2 separate regions of the Homo sapiens genome follow, and region 1 is linked to region 2. The links come from fine-mapping of genetic effects on gene expression. A gene starts in region 2. The other region holds a variant in brackets. All regions are shown on one strand. Distances are from middle to middle. Region 1 overlaps WDR86 (WD repeat domain 86). Region 2 holds the start of WDR86 (WD repeat domain 86).

The links.
Region 1: its variant is fine-mapped to the expression of WDR86 in whole blood (INTERVAL, PIP 0.97).

The regions. Positions count from the first base shown.
Region 1 is chr7:151,381,063-151,384,062 of GRCh38, forward strand. It overlaps WDR86 (WD repeat domain 86), which reads right to left. Exons shown (of 6, transcript NM_198285.3): 5 at 816-919; 6 at 62-684. The coding sequence ends at 520. Among named protein-coding and RNA genes, the nearest start is that of WDR86-AS1, 27 kb to the right of the region's middle. RefSeq lists silencers at 305-464, 485-724. The variant C/T (reference allele first, on the strand shown) is at 1,373.
Region 2 is chr7:151,408,859-151,411,574 of GRCh38, forward strand. It overlaps WDR86 (WD repeat domain 86), which reads right to left and starts at 1,180. Exons shown (of 6, transcript NM_198285.3): 1 at 569-1,180. The coding sequence starts at 731. WDR86-AS1 (WDR86 antisense RNA 1) reads left to right here and starts at 303. Exons shown (of 6, transcript NR_109857.1): 1 at 303-524; 2 at 2,370-2,454. RefSeq lists an enhancer at 1,746-2,378.

The DNA.
Region 1 (3,000 bases), 28 kb before region 2:
CCCAAGCTCCAAAAAGAAGCTGAGACTCAGTTTGCAAAACAAAAAGAGGACACAGGAGCACTTTTAACGTTCAGGCTGTATATTTCAGTTCCCCCCAAGGCCCTCGAGACGGACGATTTGCCAAAATAACCAGGTTCAGTGGCTTCTGTAAAAAGTCACTTCCTCTCAGCAGGAAAGGCCCAGTTTCGTGGGGCTGGGGGAGCTGGGGCAGTCCGCCTGCAGCCCCTGAGGTGGGAGGGTCCCCAGGACTAGGCCTTTCGCCAGGTCAGGGATGGGGAGGGAGGACAGGAGCCACCCTAAAAGGGAAAAGGGGGCGGTCCCCAGGGCGAGCACTCCCGCTCCCAGCGCCTCCTGGCCACCAAAGAAAAACCAGACGCCTGCGACGGGCTCTCCTCCCGCCCGGGCTTCCTCGCTCCTCGCCCCTCGCCGGCCATCGGGCGCCACCACCGCGGGTAGCAGGGCGGGGCGCTCTGGGAGCCGCTGGGTGTCTGGGCTGGCGTCTGCAGGGGCCCCGCGGGATCAGGCCGGCTGCAGGGGCGCGGCGGCGCAGCCCACCTTGTTGCTGAAGAGCCGCGAGAGGCTGCGCATGGGCGGAGGGGGCCGCGGGGCACCTCGGAGCCCGCGCACGTCCCAGAGGCGCAGGGCGCCGTCGTGCGAGGCGGTGTAGAGCACCTGGCCGTGCACCTGCGGGCGCAGGGGCGGGCGTCACCGGTGACGCGGTAGGCGGGGGGGACACCGCTGCCCGCGTGGATGGATCGGGGCGGGGCACCTTCCCTCCCACGGGCGGCGGCCCCGAGAAGGGCAGAGGGACCTACCTGGATGCAGTTGATGATGAATGTGTGGCCCCGGAACACCCTCCGCAGCTCTCCAGACTGCGCGTCGAAGGCCCGGGCGCAAGCGTCCCCGCTGCCCGTGAACACTGCGGACACACAGCGCGCGCTGGGCCTCCCTCCCTGCTCGGCCCCCCGCAAGCAGGGATGGGGCGGCGAGAGCGTGACCTGGGGCGTCTCCGAGACTCCGCCCCACGGGGGTATCCTGAGGCTCATATGGGAAGTGGACAGTGCCCCTCCAGAGAAACGGGTCCCCACGGTTATTCTGCTCCACCCTGCAGATGCCTGCGCGCCAGCTGGCCCTGCCCCTGCCCTGCTGAACACCGCCCGGGCCCAGTCCCCACTCCGCGGTTTGGTGAAGTTGGTTTCCGTGCCTGCTTGGGAAGCCCCTGCCTGGGGATAATCGTCAGGTCCTCGAGTCGCTTCCCCCCTACCTTCCGCTGCGTCGGCAACCTTATCCTCCCGTCCTCATTAACGGATCGGCACTCAAATCAAAGCCCAGCCCTCTGGGGTTCATGATCACGCACCCCCGGGACCCCTAG[C/T]GGGGGCGAGCCTCCGACCTCAGTCTGTCTCCTCCCCCAGGTGGCTGCCTCTCCCTGGGGTTTCTCCTAAGATTTCAGTCCAATCGTTTTCCAACTGCAACCTGCATTTGCATCCGTCACTTGGAGGTCTTAGCCACAGATCGCGGGGCCGCATCCCAGAATCTGATTTAGCAGGCGGGGCCTGAGAATCGGCATTTCTAACCAGTTTTAAGTGATGCTGCTGCTAGTCAGGAGGCCACACTGAGGATGTGGACTAGAAGAACTCACTTGGCCTAGGCTGGGCTCTCCGAAGCCGACCCTGATGCTAGGACTTGATGCAGACAGTTCACCTGGCAGGCGTCCCAGGAAACGCTCACAGGGAAATGGGAGATGGAAAGGGAGGGAGGAAGTCCTGTGGGGTCTGTCAATGAGCAGGTAACTACGGTGGGCAGCTATGGTGCAAGCCTGCCAGGGACCTTGGGGAAAAGGGGTAGGACCACCTGAGGGTAAGGGTGCTGGGCTACCTATCTATCTGAGGGTGCTCTGTGGGTACTTGTTCCCCAGCCTTTTTTTTTTTTTTTCTTACAGGGAGACAGGGTCTCACTCTGTTGCCGAGGCTGGAGTGCAGTGGTACCATCTTAGCTCACTGTTAACCTTGAACTCCTGGGCTCAAACGATCCTCCCGCTTCAGCCTCCTGAGCAGCTGGGACCACAGGCATGCACCACTACACCCAGCTAATTTTAAAAAAAACGGGGCGGCGGGGTGGGGGGGGGGAGCTGGGCACAGTGGCTCACGCCTGTAATCTCAGCACTTTGGGAAGCTGAAGCTGGCAGAGCAGATCATGAGATCAGGGGTTTGAGACCAGCCTGGCCAACATGGTGAAACCCTGTCTCTACTAAAAATACAAAAATTAGCTGGGTGTGGTGGCACACACCTGTAGTCCCAGTTACTTAGGAGGCTGAGGCAGGAGAATCACTTGAATCTGGGAAGTGGAGGTGGCAGTGAGCCTAGACTGCGCCATTTCACTCCAGCCTGGGCCACAGAGCAAGACTCCGTCTCAAAAAAAAAAAAAAAAAAATGTTTGTAGAGACAGGGTCTTGCTATGTTGCTCAGGCTGGTCTTGAACTACTGAGCTCAAGAGATCCTCCCGCCTTGGCTTCCCAAAGTGCTGGGATTACAGGCATGAGCCACGGTGCCCAGCCTGTTCCAGCCTTTTTGTTAAAACTACAGAGTGAATGGCCCCAGAGGGGAAGTTTCATTTCTGGGTCTCTTTTCAGCCCCTTTCTGCCTTCCCCCCACAAACTCAGACAAATGGACATGGCCTGGAAAACCCAGTGTGGCTGCTGAGCTCCCCGCGGGTGGGAAGAGGATCAAAAACAAAGTCTGATCATCCCATAGCCTTGCTGGCCAAGACCAAGAACCGAGCTGGGCAACAGTGAGCTGCAGGCTTCGCTTTCCCTGCGGGCTCCATGCCCCGGCTGCACGGGGAGGTGTTCTAGGCGGCCGCCGGCCAGAGCCTTTGAGAGTGGAACCTTCCTCGTGTTCAATTAGAGGACCCAGACTTGGGAACAGAGCCGTAACCACACTTCCAGCCTTGGACACAGGAACAAACGAAAAATAATTTTTCTGTGTCAGACACCTGAATCCT
Region 2 (2,716 bases):
CACTGGCTGTGCGACCTGGGCGAATTACTTAACTCCCAGCCTGTTTCCACGTCTGTATGTGGGGTAACATAGTGTGACGACGGCACACTTCTCCGCACCGCTGGCCCTTAACAAGCGTCTACTGTTGCTGTGAGAGTCGTCAACAGGAAATGCCAGCAGAAGAGCACAATTGGCCACAAAGAGGCCACAAGGCACCTAGAGACAAGGGAAGGTTTGCTTAGAAGGAGTATAGGTGCAACTTTTTGTTTGTTAACATTGTTGTCAAGGGAGATTTCCTGCCGCTGGTTGACAAATGATCTTCGCCTTTGTAGCGGACGCCCCTCGACCCACCCACCCGATCCCGGCCGCACCCTGCTCTGCACCCGCACCCCACCCCCAGACCTCACCCTGCCCTGCCGTGCGCTCAACAGCCAGATGCTGGGCCCAGACAAGCGCTCTTCCGCTAGTGTGCCGGGATGAGCGGGGGCTGGACTTCTAGAAAGGGGTCTGCGGGCGCAGGAGCTGGGGTCCGCGGTCTGGGGCCGGTGAGCTGCGGCGAAGAGGTCAGGGAGGGAGTGGGAGGGTCTACCTTGCAGGAGCGCGCAGCACTGGCCGTCCGCGGTGCTCCAGAGCCGGGCCGTGCCGTCCTCGCTGCCCGTCAGCAGGCGCTGCCCGTCGGGGCTCAGGCTCAGCCAGTTGATGCCCCCGCGGTGGTCGGCGCAGACCCTCAGGGCCGACCCGCCGCCCCCCATCCCGCTGGCAGGGCGGGGAACAAGAAGGAGCTGCGCCCCGCTAGGGAGGGGCGCCCCGGGGTCCGCGCGGCGGCTCCGTACGACTGCGGCCCGCGGCCATCGCGGGGAACGGGGAGCCCGACTCCTGCGGAGGCACGCGGCGAGGGGAGGGTGAAGGACCCTAGCTCCCCGCTGCCTCCAGCCTCTGGGCCCGCGAACCCAGGGCGCTGCGGGGGGCGGCCCACTCGGGACCTCCGCCCTGGGTAGAGTCCTGGGCGCGCGGGCAGAGAGAACCCCCTTCCCAGCACCGCTCGGAGGATCCACACCCCACCGGGCGAACAAGGCAGCTGCGTCTCTGGTGCACAAGGAGCCCCCCGCCTCCTCTCGCGCCCACGGGGCTGGGGCGGGGAGAGGAACACGGGAAGCCGAGCGCCCCGCGCCCTCCCCGGCCGAGCGCGGAACAATACGGTCCAGCCTGGCTCCTCCTCAGAGACCACCCCTCACCCGATCCCCTCCCACTTCTCGGGCTGCGCCCCAGCCCCCACCCCGCGCGCCTGCAGCCTCCCCCCTTCGTCGCTGTGCGGGTCCGGGGGACGGCTCCACGTGCGACCCTCCTAGCTGCCCGGGCTGCGCCTCTGGGCTCTGGCCTCTGCCACCTCCGCCGCCGCCGCCTGGGTCCCCTGAGCCAAGGGCCGGGACGAGGGAGGGGGAGGCGGACAAAGGGTCGGGGTCGGGGAGAATCGCGCGCCGGGAACTCATTTGGGGCGCAGCTCCACCGACCCCTCGGCTACTCGCCTCCACCAGGCAAGCCAGGTCCTCCCATGCTCTGAGCCCTAAGGACTCTGCCCGAGGGGCTCTCGGGGACTTGGGGGCGGTCCCCCAATGGAGGGTGCGACAGGGAAAGCCCCGAGTCCGCCCTCCCTGGGAAATCACGCGCACACCCAGGATTCTACTTTGGTCTGGCCGGAGTGGGGATGAGGTGCGAGCCGCTGCGGGGTCGGTGGAGCCGGGATGTCAAGTTCACCTTCCAGCCGCCGCGGGCTCCCTCGGCCTGGGGCGCCTCTAATGGACCCCGGGGTCGGCCTGAGCCCTCCCGGAGCGCCCGGCGGCTGGTTTCCATTAGGGCAGTTCCGGCGCCGACTTCGCTGGGGACGGGGAAGGTGACCCCCCTACTCGGATCCCCCAGGTCCTAAAGGTAGCAGGATTTCCAGAACGCTCCAGGGCTCTCTCAGGAGCCTAGGGAGAAGGGCAAGGAAGGGGCGTCTTTGGCGAGCTAGCCCGCAATGGGACGACCAGTACTGCACGCTCTGCTCTATCCAGACTCCAAAAGAAAACCCCATCGTGGGGTGTCCCAGGCCGTTGGGTCGTTTATACCCAGAGTGGCCTAACCAGAGAAATCCGTTCTTTTCCCTCAAAACTTGTAAAGCAGCTGGCGCCTCAGCTTAAGGAGCGTGGCCCTTCCTTAGCAGGTGGTGGAGAGAGGGGCAGTGGAGGAGCGTTAGGACGAGATTTGGGGTCATCCAGCCGGAGAGAGGGAGGCCGAAAGGAGAGACGTTTTCAGGAGGTGGAGGCTTCAGCATTTGGATGCCTGCGAGGCGGGAGAGGCCGGGGAGCCTGTCTTGTGCTGAGAGGCTGGGTAGACTGTTTTGTCCCCTACAGGCTGATCACCAGTTCCTCTTAGGAACCGGTGAACCTCAGGGGGCCCATTGCACATCCAGGTGTGAAACTGCGGTGTGGCCTCCAGGTGAGGACAGACTCGGTATAGTGGGGATCTTGGGCAGGCCCTGCGGCTGCAGCCCTTGGGGAAGGTGAATGTGAGGACCATGGAGGCTGGGAGGGTTTATCCGGAGAAGTGCCAGAGGAAACCCAAACTTTCTGGGCAGAGGGGCCAAGGAGAACCAGGCATCGACTCTTTTGGAAACTAAGAGGGGAGGGGTTTGAAAGCAGTTTGGGAGCTGGGGACAGATCGTAGGTTGGGCGAGCTTGCCTGGTCGTGGGCCAGAGGA